2 separate regions of the Homo sapiens genome follow, and region 2 is linked to region 1. A link means that fine-mapping ties the variant in region 1 to the expression of a gene that starts in the linked region. Tissue or cell type: whole blood. Region 1 holds a variant in brackets; the other region holds the start of a gene. All regions are shown on one strand. Distances are between the middles of the regions.

Region 1 (8,109 bases):
TCACTCTGTTGCCCAGGCTGGATTGCAGTGGTGTGATCCTGGCTCACTGCAACCTCCGCCTCCCAGGTTCAAGCGATTCTCCTGCTTCAGCCTCCTGAGTAGCTGGGATTACAGGCACGCACCACCACACCTGGCTAATTTTGTGGGTTTTCTTTCTTTCTTTCTTTCTTTCTTTTTTTTTTTTTTTTTTGAGACGGAGTCTTGCTCTGTCACCTAGGCTGGAGTGCAGTGGCGCAATCGCGGCTCACTGCAACCTTCACCTCCCGGGTTCAAGCGATTCTCCTGCCTCAGCTTCCTGAGTAGCTGGGATTACAAGCGCATGCCACCATGCCCGGCTGATTTCTGTATTTTTAGTAGAAACGTGGTTTCACCATGTTGGTCAAACTTGTCTCAAACTCCTGACCTTGTGATCCGCCCACCTCTGCCTCCCAAAGTGCTAGGATTACAGGCGTGAGCCACCATGCCTAGCCTAGCTAATTTTTATATTTTTAGTAGACAGGGTTTTACCATATTGGCCAGGCTGGTCTGAAACTCCTGACCTCAGGTGATCCGCCTGTCTTGGCCTCTCAGTGGGCTGGGATTACAGGCGTGAGCCACCACACCTGGCCTATTTATTGATTTTGTAGAGATGGGTTCTCACTGTTTCCCAGGCTTGTCTTGAACTCCTGGCTGCAAACAATCCTGCCTCAGCCTCCCAAAGTGCTGGGCTTGCAGGTCACCACACCTGGCCTTCCTGTTAAAGGTTTATAAAAGCAAATAAATGATACACAACTTAAGCTTTAATTTGATTATGAATGATGCTTATTCCTTTTATGTCATTGGGCTAGTCAAACTTACAAGAGCCTGGGCCAATGTAGTCTTGAGTCTTGTGGGCCAGTCCAGCAACCAAAAAAAAAACCACAGGTGAGACTGGAAGCAGGAGGGAACCTTGTGGTGGTGCTGCTAGCCCTCCACTCACCTCTCATACTATTTGTTCATCAACCTGACTGCTTTGTATTTCTATATAGAATGCAAAATCTGCATCGCTAAGCTTTTATGATGTATCTTAGATAATTTGCATGAGGTCACATTTGCTTAAATCCAATTTTATACAACCCAAGGAACATCTGTAATATAAAAGCCAGAAAACCTCCATAAGTTCACATTTCACAGCCAAGGATTTCGTAATATCAGGCTACTCCTTCTATCATTATGATTGTGCCCATGTGATTGCCCTTTCTGAACAACTGTGTTTTCCCTGGACGTTTGCAAGATTCTATAGTGTAGTAACATCATGGAGTAGGGCATTCTCATTTTATCCTAATTGTTCATGCCTCAGGGCTCTGGCAAGGATCACAATTCTGGGAGAGGGTCATGCCACACTGAAATTAGACCTGGAGGGGAGAGGATCTGTACCCAAGGAGGTGGCATCAGGGTCTGCTCTGAGTCCCTGTGTCACCTGGCTTCCTTATTTCCGTTTCTTCTTTCTTAGGACTTCAGCTTGTCTGTGGTCTCTCAAGACCACACCAGCCTGTCTTTTTTGGGGGGTTGTGTTCTGCCAGCTTAATCACTTTATTCTCTTGGTATTTCTTTAAATTTGTGAGAGAGAAATTCTTGCGCAGTTACTAGTCTTTTTGTATCAAGCAGTGTGAGTCACCTGTGATTTGGCTACTTTGGGCTAAGTGTGTGACCCAACACAATCAACTAAAGTTGAAATTAAAATGAGTGTGATACGAAATTTACCTCAGGACACAGAAGGATGTGGTAGACACCAGACTTAATTTCCTGTTAGAGATGACCGCCATTTATTGAGGATTTACTATGTGTCAGATGCTCTGTAAAGGTCTTTAGGTATATTATTTAATTTTGCAATAATCCCATAAGGTAATTGTCACCATTTTATAGATGGAGAAATGAAGATTCAGAGTGGTAAAATAACTTGCTGAAAGTTATTTAGGTAGTAAGTAGCTGACCCAGGGCTTGGATCTGGACCTGCCTAGCCTAATGAATATTCTTTTAGCCACTATACTGTACTTGCATACTGTGGGGAGGCATGGACTGGAGCATGAAGGTCTTGATAGATCACATGGAAGAGACAGCTAGGCTATCTGCACATCCACGTTCCTTTCTCCAAAATTGCCGCTGGACTGCCCACATTCTTCCCCCGGTTACAGCGTATGGTTTAATAAGGGAATTACTCCTAACCCAAGCTGGACAACTCAGGTTGGCTCAAGGACACAGGACTCTAGACCACGTAACTTACAAGGCTGAGGGCACTATTTGGGAGGAGGCAGCCAGTCATATTTATCATCCACTATGTACCAGGTATTCTAAGGACTAGGAAGACAGCAGTAAACAAAACAGACAAAATCTGTGTAATAGAAATACTGTGGACAAAGCAGAAAAAATCTTGACCTAGTGGGCCTGGAATTCCAGAGTCATGTGTAAGAAGAACAGAGGAAGAAGCTGGTCTGCATAGAGGTCATGCATCCTGTAGCAGACTGGATCATTATTCTCGATTCTTCACCTCTGTGTATCGTGCCCTTGCCATGGCTTCTCCGTGAATGGAGTGTACTTCCCTGTCCCTTGACTTTGAGCTTGACCAAGTCACTTGCTTTGGCCAATAGAATGTTAATGGAGCTGATGTAAGCAGAGTACTTTTAGCAGTTTGCTTGTGCTCCTGTCATTTACCGTGAGAAGAGCATGCCCTGGGTAGCCATTGATCCATGAAGGATGAGAAACATGGAGCAAACCTAAACCCAGTCTGCAGCCGGTGCTGGGTGTGGTGGCTTACACTTGTAATTCCAGCTACTTGGGAAGCTGAGGTAGGAGGATTGCCTGAAGCCCAGGAGTTTGAGGCTGCAGTGAGCTATAGTCGTGTCACTGCACTTCAGGATAGGTGACAGAGCAAGACCGCATCCTCTAAAAAAAATTTTTTTTTTTTAATCTGCAACCTGGAGTCCAGCCTAACCTAGCTGAGTTGCAGCCAACCTACAGATCTGTGATGAGTAGTTAAATGATTATTGTTTTGAATCATTGAATCTTGGGGTAGTTTGTTACACGTCTTTACTGAAGTAACCTCTCACTGAAACAGCATGAAAGAAAAGCTGCCTTAATGCTCAGCCGCTTTCCAGCTTCATGTCACAGTCTCATGGGTTCCAGCAGTAATTCCTGCTTTAGGTTGTCTGTAAGATATGCCCAAATCGCTATAGTAAATTTAACTTATAATAAATTCTACTTGGGATATGATCATTTGCATTCCCATCTTTAAAAAAAAATGGCACCGGGAATGGTGTAATAAGTGACAGACAGAGAAAATGTGGAAGTGTCTGTGGGATTACAGAAGGGTAGGATGCAGGGTAGTGAAAGTTCCCCAATTCTGGATGAGACACAAACCATCCATGATATAAGGTTCTGAAGAGCCAACTGATTGATTTCTTGTGTGTCCTTGAGATCTAAACCACAGGCCTCATGGGGCTGAGGAGGATTTTTTTGTAAAACGTAGTGGAAAAGGGAAACTCTCTGGTCCTCAGTGGCACATCACCATGCTGAGTGTGACCTTGAAGGCAGTGAGAAGCCCTTAAAGTGTCATGATCACTGAAAGCCTTCTGAGGGAGGAGGGGCTTGATACAGAGAGGTTTAGCAGTAGACACAACTGGATTTGGGCATCAGTTTGAAGCAAAGGAGAGTGAGAAGTTAAATCCAGAATTCTGGATTAGGTGACTGAATAGATGATGGCGTCATTCATCATGATAGGGAAGTAATCCAGGAAGAGTTGCAGGTAAAGGTGGGTAAAAGACGTGTTCAATTTTGAATACCTGTTGGACATCCACATGGAGATGTCCCATTTCCATACAGACTTGGAACTCTGTGAGAGAGTGGGCTAGAGATACAGCTTAAGGACTTAGGACAAAGCTCCAAGGAATACAAACATTTAAAGGGCTAACAATGTCGATGAAAGAGACAGGTTGTACAGAGACACTGGACTAAATTGGGAGAGATTTACAGCTTATAAGTGACAGTTCACAAGGAAATAGTACATTTGAAGCTGAACACCAGATCCACTGTTCTCACCTCTGAACATGACTGCTCCACCTAGGGCTTAGGAAAAGTAGCTCCGTGTGATGAATT[G/A]GCGCTGGACACTCAAAATCATAGCCTTCTACAGAAAGGTTTCCTATAAGGATATTTCCTGTAAGGAACTTATATTTCACACCCATGCTTGACCAAGCAGGTATGGCATAATGGGAAGCATGTTTTTTAAAAAGGGAAACAACACATTGGATATGCAATACGATTTTGATTTTGTTAAAATACATAGAATATTGAACAGAAATAGATCATATCAAACAGAAATAGAACACACATTAGTGGTGAAAATGAAAAAGAAAACCATTGATCAAGGTGATCAAGGGTCAGTATGACCTTGACCAAGTCAGTTAGCTTTTCTGAGCATCCTCATCTATAGAGTAGAGATGAGGTTAAATTGCCTACCCTGCAGGATTACTTGAAGTGTTAATGAGATTAAACTAACACTGGAAATTGTAAAGGCCTGTACAAATCTCACATATTAGGGAGCTTCCAAACACTAATGTTTTGTTCCAGGGAAATCTGTTTCTAAGGGGGCCTCACCAAAATGATGTTTGATGTTGGTTAAAATGAATTGGCTGATCACTTCTTAGGTTTTCTTGAGTGAGATCTGAAAAGTCTCAAAACTCTGAAAATTCTACAGCCATGTTTATTTTTCACTAGAGCTAAACTAAGTAAAGATGTACCATGCTTGATATTTCATTGCAAATCTGATTTGTACTGGAGCATCAAGAACTCTTTAGTCGTGGTCTTATTGTATACTTTGTGCTGCCTCTAAACACCTTTCCTTGTTTTTTGAGACGGAGTCTCGCTCTGTCACCCAGGCTGGAGTGCAGTGGTGCGATCTCAACTCACTGCAACCTCCACCTCCTGGGTTCAAGTGATTCTCCTGCCTCAGCCTCCCGAGTAGCTGAGATTACAGGAGCCCGCCACCATGCCCAGCTAATTTTTGTGCTTTTAGTAGAGATGGGTTTTCACCATGTTGGCCAGGCTGGTCTCGAACTCCTGACCTAAAGTAATCCACCCACCTCGGCCTCCCAAAGTGCTGGGATTACAGGCTGCAGTGAGCCACTGCACCCGTCCTAAATTAACTTTTAAACACCAGCTTCCTGTGTTCCACTGCCAAGGCTACAGCCCATATTTATAAAAACTATTCTGCTTGCTAGAACACCTCATAATTACATACTGACCTTGTATCAATATTGAGCTTGTTGACCTGCAGGCTGTTTAGAGGTTCAGGACTTACCAGACCATCTGCCAAATGCTGCCATTGGTAATGCTTTTCTCTATTACTGTAATGAAATCGCTAAAATCATTTCCTGTTCCCAGTCCTTGTTCAGATCTTCTATCTACTGTCAATAAAAGGATATTAAAATACTCAGAAAAGTCCACATATCCTTTTCATCCTGGTCCACAGTGTAGCACATGGCTTTATGTTTTAGTGTTGGAAATAATAAATGATCAATGACGTCAAGCCTGTTGTAATAAAAGAAGGCTGCTTATTAAACTCCCTCTCTCCAGCTGTTTTTCCTTTGACATCACGGGATCTGTTTATAATGACCTTTATGGGTTTTCCCCCTTACCATTCAGGCTTTATATGATTACAAGAGAAATTAAAGTTCTGTGAACAGTCTCTTCACAGAAGTGACACTTTCCTGCTCAGGCCCAATGTGCATGCAGGCTCCAACAACAGGATAGTGGGAAGAAGGAACAAAGAGGCTTCCCGTTCCCTTGGAGAAGCCTGACTTCCTGAAGTATGGGCTTGCTTCCAGGAAGCAGTATACATTGAAAGCAGTCAGTGGGTAAGGATTGTATATATTAATCACAGCCCACAATTCAAGCAAATGCATATACTATGGCTTTATTATGTCACTCAACATACGATCATGTAGTTTTGTTTTGAGTGGTGCCTGTTGAACCTAAACCATTTGAGGAATTTGGCATCTCTGCAAATTCGTTCTTTTGGGGGGCTGTATTTTGGAAGGCTGATGGCCTTTGTCAATCTATGAATGTGCTTCCTTCAAAATGCAACTGGTGTTGGACTTTTCCTATCTGTACCCAGGAATAAGCCAATTGGCAGGAATTTCTGGAGGAAACTCCTAAATCCTTTAACACTGCCCCTGCCCCCCATCACAGAGAAGTCTGTACTCTGTTGTCATTGGAAGAACAAAAGTTTGTTGATGCCCTGGAATAAAATCTCTAAATTAAATTCTCTAATTTCTTTTTATATTTATTTTAGGTTTGAACAAACCAGATAACTGTTCTGTTTGTCCTAAGTGACCTCTAGAGATTGTTGCCATTTCCATGATGTTCAATATTCAAAGCAATTTGGAGACTTCTTGTTCCAGATGCACCCCTTTGTTCGTTGCTCACATCAAGTGATATCTGACTGGTCTTTAAAGATCCAAATTTCACAATTTTGGATGAGCCTTGACTGATCTGAAAATGTTAGATTTTTCTCTTTCATTCTGTTTGAACATGCTTTAGTGTGAGTTGGCTATTTCTTTAGAGCAATTAAGGAAAAATGCCCAATTTCCCAGAACAACTCACAAAGTACTCATGGATTATTTCATTTTCTTAGGAAGTTGCCTACTTGCTAAAAGGTGTACCCTGAGCATTTGTGACTCCGAGGGAAACCAGGAACATCATGCTGCAGAAACCCTTTGGAGGAACGTGCCAACTGCTCCGTAACCATGAGCTGGCTCTCCTTTGATGGAGAGATTAATAGTTTCCATAATTATATCATCCTGGTTGTTCTGGGGCCAGAGTTTACTTAGACTTGAAAGAAATTGAAGTTAATTGAAAAAGAAAAAAAAATTCTTCCTGTCTTATTTCCCCTTTAAGCCTCTCATCTAGAGAAATGATGAGAAAGAGATTCAAGGATTTGTTGCCAATGGGAGCCAAAATGTTTCTTTTGAAATTGTAGATAAAAAGAACCAGAAGAAAGCAATTGGATGGTGGGGAGGGGGTAGTTATGGGAAAGGGGTTACAGCTCTGCCTAAATAATTCCAAACAACAGAAACACTGGGCAGCGGAGCCAGTGTACATGTGGCGGGTTGTCCCGGGGAGTGGACGTCGGTTCTGGAAACAAGTGCAGAAGGAGCAGAAGAGAAGTTTGGTAGTTGATGTGATTGTTAGTAGAAGAATTGGATTGGTCTACTGATTTTTATCTGTGTCTGTGTCTAATACAGAGGAGCTACCATCAGCTTATTTGCCACATCGTAGAGTTTGGGAATACTTATCTTTGGTTAAAATCCATTTTTTCTTGCTCTAAAATTTGAGCTCAATTTTTTCTTTGTAAAGCCCCTATCATCACTCTTGACCAGTTCTCTCAAACTGCACTCCAGTAAGATTGCTATTGGACCTTGGAGAGTTTCAGTGGGCGGACGATGTGGCCCTCCCTGGGAGAAATGGGATGTTAATAGAACATAGGTTCTATTGAGAGTGTCATGTCTTCAGTCAAAGATGAATTTCCAATATGTGATCACCAAGTGCTTTGTTGAAGCTTATTGAACCCGTAAGAGAGAAACTGAATTGTAGATTAACACTTCTCATTCATTCATTCATTCCAAAGTATATTGTGATTTGAACTTATTGTGTGTTAAGCACTGTGCTCAGTTAGTGGGACTAAGGAGGTGACAATTCAAGATAGGAGGAAGACAAGGGGGCTAGTTAATAGCTGTTCATTCCATCAGTTTCTGAAAGTTCAAGGTCCATCTCACTTCTCCTGAAGCTATGTACTTTCACTCTTCCAACTTCTATGCTAGTCGGAGATGTGGGGGTCTCTTGAGGATTACACAACTATAAGTGATGTATATATTTAGTGAGAGAATATCTCCCTGTAGTTTATATGCAGGCTCAACAGCACCCTTCCACCACTGCCCACCCTCCATGACAATTAAGGACAGCAGATAAATGCTTCCACCCACTCCTCTTTTGGGACTTAACAAGGAAATCACTCAGACCACTCTCATTCCAACCCAGGGCTTGGCCATATCTCACCTGTAGAGGGAGGTTCTGAATTTTAGCTTTCCTGTGATTCCT
Region 2 (8,109 bases), 27 kb after region 1:
TGAATGGTACTCCATTGTGTGTAAGTACCACATTTTCTTTAACCATTCGTCTGTTGATGAACACAGGTTGTTTTCAAATCTTGACTATTGTGAACAGTGCTGCAACAAACATGAGAGTGCAGATATCTCTTCAATACGCTGATTTCCTTCCTTTGGGTATATACCCAGCAGTGGGAGTGCTGGATCATATGGTAGCTCTATTTTCAGTTTTTTGAGGCACGTCCAAACTGTTCTTCATAGTGGTCGTACTAATTTATTATACATTCCCACCAACAGTGTACAAGGGTTCCCTTTTCTCCACATCCTCTCTAGTATTTGTTATTGCCTGACCAGGGTGAGATGACATGTTATTGTAGTTTTGATTTGCATTTATCTGATGACCAAGGATGTTGAGCACCTTTTCATATGTCTATTTGCCATTTGTATGTCTTCTTTGGAGAAATGTCTATTCAAATCTTTTGACCATTTTTAATTGGATTATTAAATTTTTTCCTATAGAGCTGTTTGAACTCCTTATATATTCTGGTTATTAATCCCTTGTCAGATGGGTACTTTGCAAATATTTTCTCCCATTCTGTGAGTTGTCTCTTCTCTTTGTCAATTGTTTCCTTTGCTGTACAGAAGTTTTTTAACTTGATGTGATCCCATGCAATCATTTTTCCTTTGGTTGCCTGTGCTTGTGGGGTATCACTCAAGACATTTTTGAGTAGACTGATGTCCTGGAGTGTTTCCCCAATGTTTTCTTGCAGTGGTTTCATAGTATGAGGTCTTAGATTTGAGTCTTTAATCCATTTTGATTTGATTTTTATATATGGTGAGAGATAGGGGTCTAGTTTCATTCTTCTGATGGATATCCAGTTTTCCCAGCAGCATTTATTGGAGAGACTGTCCTTTCCCCATTGTATGTTCTTGGCAACTTTGTCAATAATGAGTTCACTGTAGGTGTGTGGATCCGTTTCTGGGTTCTCTATTTTGTTCCATTGGTCTATGTGTCTGTTTTTATGCCAGAACCATGCTGTTTTGGTTACTGTAGCTCTGCAGTATAATTTGAAGTCAGGTAATGTGATTCCTCCAGTTTTGTGCTTTTTGCTCAGGATAGCTTTGGCTGTTCTGGGTCTTTTGTGATTCCATATAAATTTTAGGGTTGTTTTTTCTATTTCTGTAAGGAAAGTCTTTGGTATTTTGATAGGGATTGCCTTGAATCTGTAGATTGCTTTGGGTAGCATGGACATTTGAACAATAAGGATTCTTCCGATCCATGAACTTGGAATAGCCTTCTGTTCTTTTGGTGTCCTCTTTAATTTCTTTCATGAGTATTTTATAGTTTTCATTGTAGAGATCTTTCACTCCTTTGGTTAATTCCTAGGTACTTATTTTATTTGTGGCTATTGTAAATGGGATTAATTTCTTTTTCATACTGTTCACCATTGGCATACAGAAACGCTATTGATTTTTGTATGTTGATTTTGTATCCTGCAACATTAGTGAATTATTTAATCAGTTCAAATAGTTTTTTGGTGGAGTCTTTAGGTTTTTCCAAATATAGGATCATATCATCTGCAAACAAGGATAATTTGACTTCTTCCTTTCCAGTTTGGATGCCCTTTATTTCTTCTCTTGTCTGATTGCTCTAGCTAGAACTTCCAGTACTATGTTGAATAATAGTGGTGAAATTGGGCATCCTTATCGTGTTCCAGATCTACAAGGAAAGGCTTTCAGTTTAGGAAAGACATCTTTGACCTCAGCTTGGTTCTGAAAGGTCTCTCCCTGACCAGTATTTTTTATGGCATTGAAGTAAGAGCACTGGATTTAAACTCAGACACTTTTGCTTGATTATTGATGGTACTTACTAGCCTGTGCCAGAATAACGTCTTAGAGCCACCCCTGTGCTTCAATTTCCGTATCTGTAAAATACAAATAATATGTACCTCATAGAAGCATTATACAGATAAAAGAAAAATGCATAGAAAAGCTGTAAAGATCCTGAGCTTTAAAGTACATCCATACTCAGCAAAAAAGAAAACAGGAAAGAAAAGGAACAAATCACTAATACCTGCATGAAACTCAAAAGCATTATGTTAAGTGCCAGGAGCCAAAAATCTGTACATATTTCATGATTTCATTTCTGTGACATTCCAGAGAAGGCAAAACTGTGGAGACAGAAATCAGATCAGTGGCTGCCAGGGGCTGGGTGTGAGGTGAGAGACTTTAGACAAGGGAAATTTCTCGCAGTGATAGAAATGTTCTATATTTTGATCGTTTGGTGGTTACACAACTATACATGTTTGTCAAAACTCAGAATTGTACACCTCACAGGGTGAATATTACTGTATGTTAATTATACATCAATAAATCTTACTTTTCAAACATTGGAGGAAAGAATGTCCTATAATATACTTCGTTATGTGTACAGTCCTTTGGGATAAGGAGCTAATCGACTGACTACTCAACCAGTAAATACCTATTCCAAATTTTTTGCCTCTATGTCCTGTTGTTCACAATAGCACGTAATATGATTTTTTGCTAATATAGAATGCTTCTCTGCTTGCAGCTTAAAATTTTTTTTTAATTAGAAGGGCACTGAACACTTCTCTTCTAAAAAGTTCAACTAACTGTTGCTCTGCCTCAAGGAATGGGGGAAAGCACCAAGAGAATAATAAGTCAGGACTGGGCTATTAAATAGCCCAGAAGCACAGAGAGGTGTGGGAGGTGGGGGGATTCTTGCTTTGGTCTCCAACAGGCGAGAAGCACTGCAGTCCTATAGCAGGTCATTGTGTCGATAATAGGCGTTATCTTGGTTTGGAGAGAATGTCCAACTCTGGATTGTTCAGTGTTAGTCAGACTTGTGTGGTTAAGGACGGCCTAACATTCACTTAATTAAAACACCAGTCAGATACACGCAGAGATTGAGGCGTGCAAGTCTCTGGGAGCAGGCGGACGCGACTGCCCACGCCCCACACCCGCCGGCCCTCCCTTCTCATTGGCCGCTGCCCAGCTGCTCCGACGCCCGCTTCTATAAGAGACAGGCAGCGCGGGGCCGCCGGCCGACCCAGCCTGCACCTACTGGCGCCCGAGGTGAGTGAGGCGGCCCTTCCCGCGGGCACCGGGGACCGCCGTCGAGGCTTTGGCGGCGCTTGGCAGGCGCGGGGCTGGGCAGAGTCACCCTCCCGGGAGGTAAATTGGTGGTCTTGCGGAGTCAGATTTGGGAGGTCGGAGTTGTACCCCTATAAACGCTTACTATTCTTTCCTCCCACGCTGTTTGGGGAGAAAAGACACTTTCTGAGTGCCTCCTGTGTGCCAGGAACAGACTCTTTAGCCATCATGAGATTTCACCTTCATGACAAACTCTGGTAGATATTTCTTGAGTCCCCAGATGAGGAAAGTGGGGTCCAGAGTCCAACCCAAGTCTGTGTGACTCCTCTATGTTGGCAGAAACAGTAAGATTTTTCTTCCTTCCCTTCCTCTCCATCAAAGGGCAATGTCTCTTTTTTTCTTCTCCTCCCATGAAGGGAAGCTTCCCTTAAACAGCCTCCCGAAGAAGAAGGAGTCTCAGATGCAAAGCTTCTCAGCATCGCACTTACCATCATCACCACCATCCCAACAGACGACTGAGAGCTTTTTGCAAGGTCGCAATTGACAAAGAGGACTAGGTCCTTGCGGTTTAGAGTCAGTTAAGAGTCCGTGTGAACTCAACCTTGCCTTTGGCGTTTGATTTTCAGAGGTTTAAAATGAACTTCTCATTGATGTCCCACTCTACTTGACTTAGCAGGAAAAAGACTAGAGTTGAACTTGCTAACCCAGGAAAAGTTTGTGCCTGTTAGTTAAAAAAAAAAGGGGGGGGTGGAATTCTAATATCAATGTTTCTGTAAAGTTATAATCTGTGGTTTACATATGTTATCACTGAGGTCCATTTGTACATGTATTATTAGATTATCTCCAGATAGGGATGTGTCTTCTATTTCCATTTTCTCTGCCAGTGCCTTTATTTCCTAGAATACTGTTTTTCATGGATAGTGTTTTCTTTTGTATTTCATCTACACTTTCATCCTCATTCCCACTCCTTATTTAGAAAAGAAAATCAAGACTCCGTAGAGGATTCCCTCCCTCTGAAAGAATCCTCCTTGCAGTTTTTAGTTCTGTCTTCAAACAATATCCATGCTTTCAAAAGACTAATTCAGTAGTGCTTTGTGCTTCCTAGATCCGGTAAATATAAATTACACTTGTTTTACTGATTAAACTAAGGGAAGAAAAGAGTTGGTCATTGTATACGCCTTGACCTCTCCCAAGGGTCGGGTCTGTTGATCTTCTGAGTGTCTTCTTGGTATTTTTTCCTTATTTCCAGTGGTATGTCCTACACAGTGCATCCTTAGGCCAGGAGACGCAGTAGGAAAATGACTCTACCTTTCATGAGAAAAGGGTACCAGTTGGTATTAGCTGATCAGAGAGTTGCTTTAAAAATAAAATGCTTATGTATTGATGAGACACTGATTCAAACAAGTGTGACCTATTTTATCTTACCAGGTTAGTATTGTGTTTTTTTGTTTTGTTTTGTTTTGTTTTGTTTTCCTGAAAGAGTAGGAGGAGGTGGGTAGGTTGAAAGGGGAAAGGAAAAAGTAACAAGGCAAAATATTGAGGTTCTGAAAGCGGTTTGGGGTTAACTGGAGGAAAAAATAACTGATGCCTCATAAGCTCTGTCAACCAAGCAAAGTTATGGCCAAGTTTTAGTAACGATCAAAGATCTATGTCCTGTAAGATTATTTTGGGGTGGGGGGGAACAAAAAAGAGGGTGAGAATTTTCTTCTAGTTTTCTAGTTTCTTAGCAAAAGTTCCTTTTGAGAACCTTCATTTTTACCATGACTTAAACAAGGAGGAGTGTTTCCACATCTTTTTTTTTGAGACGCAGTCTTGCTCTGTCACCTGGGCTGGAGTGCAGTGGCGTGATCCTGGCTCACTGCAACCTCCGCCTCCCAGGTTCAAGCCATTCTCCTACCTCAGCCTCCCAAGTAGCTGGGACTACAGGCGCCCGCCACCACACCCAGCCAATTTTTGTATTTTTAGTAGAGACGGGGTTTCACCATGTTGGCCAGGATGGTCTCGCTCTCTTGACCTCATGATTCGCCCGCCTCGGCCTCCTAAAGTGCTGGGAATTACAGGTGTGAGCCACTTACATCTTAATATAATAATGTATGTCTTTAAATACATCAAAATAATATAAATGCCTTGCATATCATAAATTTCAATTAATGTATCCTTCACCCTCCTCTCCCCACACCAACTAAGGAGATGTTGGCACAAAACTTGATCCATTCCAGAATCAGGTAAAGAAAATAATTATGAACCCTAAAGGGATGGAGCCATGACTGTTAGCACCTTCTCACAATAGCAACTTCCAGGAAAGCTTAGGGACCAGTTTTGAAAATTGAAGGAAATTCTCTTTTTTTTTTTTTTAAGAGACAGGGTTTCACTCTGTCACCCAGGCTGGACTGCAGTGGCGCGATCATGGATCACTGCAGCCTAGAACTCCTGAGCTCAAGCAAGCCTCCTGCCTCAGCCTCCCTAGTAGCTGGGACTGCAGGTGAAAGCCACTATGCCCAGCTAACTTAAACAATTTTTTTTGTTGTTGTTGTTCATACAGCATCTCACTATGTTACCCAGGCTCTTCATAATAGTTTTTGTTGTTGTTGTTGTTTGTTTGTTTTTGTTTTTGTTTTTTGAGACGGAGTCTCACTCTACTGCCCTGCCAGAGTGCAGCGACACGATCTTGCTCCCTGCAACCTCTGCCTCCTGAGTTCAAACGATTTTCATGCCTCAGCCTCCCGAGTAGCTGGGATTACATGCATGTGTCATCATGCCAGGCTAATTTTTGTATTTTTAGTAGAGACGGGGTTTCACCATGTTGGCCAGGCTGGTCTTCAACTCCTGACCTCAAGTGATCCACCCACTTTGGCTTTCCAATGTGCTGGGATTACAGGCATGAGCCGCAGCAGCTGGCCTCATATAGTTTTATATGAAGAGTTTTATTCCAAGCTCCAAGAGGTTGTTGAAAGACAAATTATCAGGAGATCTAGAATTCTGTTAGTGTTACCACTGACTGGAAAAAATCAGTGGTAACTTTTCTTTACTGTTCTCTGATCCTTGCTCCCAGTTCTTAAAGCTGATTTACATGATGAAGCTAGTGGTTGGCCAGGAAATAGCTTATATTTGCAGAATCCTCTTCCTTCTGCATGTCATGGTGATGGTATCAGGAAACATGAGGACTCAGTAACTATAGGGTAACTCAGTACATTTTACTTTGGGGTCTTTGTCTATTTGTTTGCAAAAAAACTGCTGAATTATTTTCTTGAGATTTGGAATTTAATACACTTTAGGGGTTTTATAATAAATTAATGAAACTGAAATCACCTTGATACAAAACAATACTGACATTTTATATCATAAAGCAACTTTTCCACATGTTTGCTATTGTAAGAAATATGTTAACCATCTTGTAAAATGCCTAATTCCTAGGGCAAGAAAAATTCTTAGCCAGAGGTATTTAGAATGTCTATTTCATTACTTGAACATTTTCTCTTTTTTTGAAAACTGGAAAATTTGGGACATATTCCCCATTACTTGAGATAATACTTATTGAGTACTTAGTGTAGGTTAGCAACTGTTCTAAGAGTTTTATGTAAATTATAACTATTTAATTCTCATAAGTTTATATATGTTTAATCCTCCTTATAATCATGAGAGTGGTGTTAATTATCCTCCCTCCAAGTTTGCAAATAAAGAGGTTGATACATATAAAGATTATAACTTGCCTAGATGGATTTGCAGAAAGATTTATTACTAGCAATTTGTTATATTATTTTGCATCTCTTTTATTGTTTACATTTTCACGCTTTAGGACAACGTCGCCCATACTCTGTGTTTGATAAGAAAAGTCAATCTTTGAGTGGTAATTGAATGGGTAAGAAACGTTTCTGAAAGTTTTCACATCCCTAAAAACATTTTGAGAATGCTTATCTGAGGCCATCCCTGAATTTTTAGCCCCAGAGCCACCAATTTGGAATTTTCTGTGTATACTTAAGTTTACCTTAAGAAATGGTCACTTCCTTTGAAGTGGAAAATCTCTTAAGATCTCCTGCTTCTCATCCATAAATCCTTTCTCAGCAGAGACTCATGGATGGGCTAGAAGCTATATTCAGTCATCTTTAGAAGCACATGGGATATTGATCAAAGGGGTGGGGTGGTGGGAAGGTGAGGGGTGGTTGAGTGTACTCCTTGGGTGTCATGGCTGGGATCTCAGTGTCCCTTCTTTTCTGCTTATTTGTACTTATTGAGAAGTCTGTCTTCCATTTTCTCCTTCCCCATGAACAAGTGTGTGAATTATTTGGAGGCAAGTTGTCTTGTTTTTAAATTTTTACTGCCCTAACTTTGACTGTGGTGCTTCACACATGTGAATGCGCTTGGGTTGAAATTTTATTCGTTTTACCATTAGTAATTATTTGAATCAAAGAAAAATCCACATAATTATTCAGTTTAACTGGCCATTTAGTTTTATAGCATTTGAAATAGAAATTGTTTTTAGTTCTAGAGACTAATTTGGCATAATTTAAAAATCTTGGTAGTTTTGGAAACTTGAACCCAATGAATTCATAAATGTTAGTTAAATTTTGAATTATGTATCTCTAACTCTTCTTGGTACCTGAAATATCCTAGTTTCTTCCGTGAGGAAAATCTCAGAATAGCACGCCATGTTATGATGTTTTAAAACGAGTGAGAATTTTGGATGTTATGAGTTCTGGTAGCTGTTTGGTAACTTAGTTTTATATTAGAAAGGTTAAGTAGCATGCCCGAGGTCATACACTGATAAACATGAGGCCAATGATTAGATATGTCTGACTTCACATTCCACATATTTCCTTACACTGTTTTGCAGTGTAAATAGGTGGTTAAGAAGATACCAAAGTAGATCTCTGGTTCATCTTCTGAGAAGCAGAACTAGAATTCTCCTGGCTAGCAGTTATCCATCTAGTGCATATGTATCTAGAGCTGGCCAGGCCTTTAGTTTACAAAATAAATAGAAAGCCTTGTCCCCACTCTGGAGGAGCTTGCTGCCTTGTT

Evidence for each region. PIP is the estimated chance that this variant, and not a neighbour inherited with it, causes the effect.
Region 2: TPH1 starts here. The variant in region 1 is fine-mapped to the expression of TPH1 in whole blood (TOPMed, PIP above 0.99). The same link has a PIP of 0.9 or more in sun-exposed skin and thyroid.

The regions. Positions count from the first base shown.
Region 1 is chr11:18,068,698-18,076,806 of GRCh38, reverse strand. No RefSeq gene overlaps it. Among named protein-coding and RNA genes, the nearest start is that of TPH1, 26 kb to the right of the region's middle. The variant G/A (reference allele first, on the strand shown) is at 4,111.
Region 2 is chr11:18,041,207-18,049,315 of GRCh38, reverse strand. TPH1 (tryptophan hydroxylase 1) reads left to right here and starts at 3,047. Exons shown (of 11, transcript NM_004179.3): 1 at 3,047-3,075.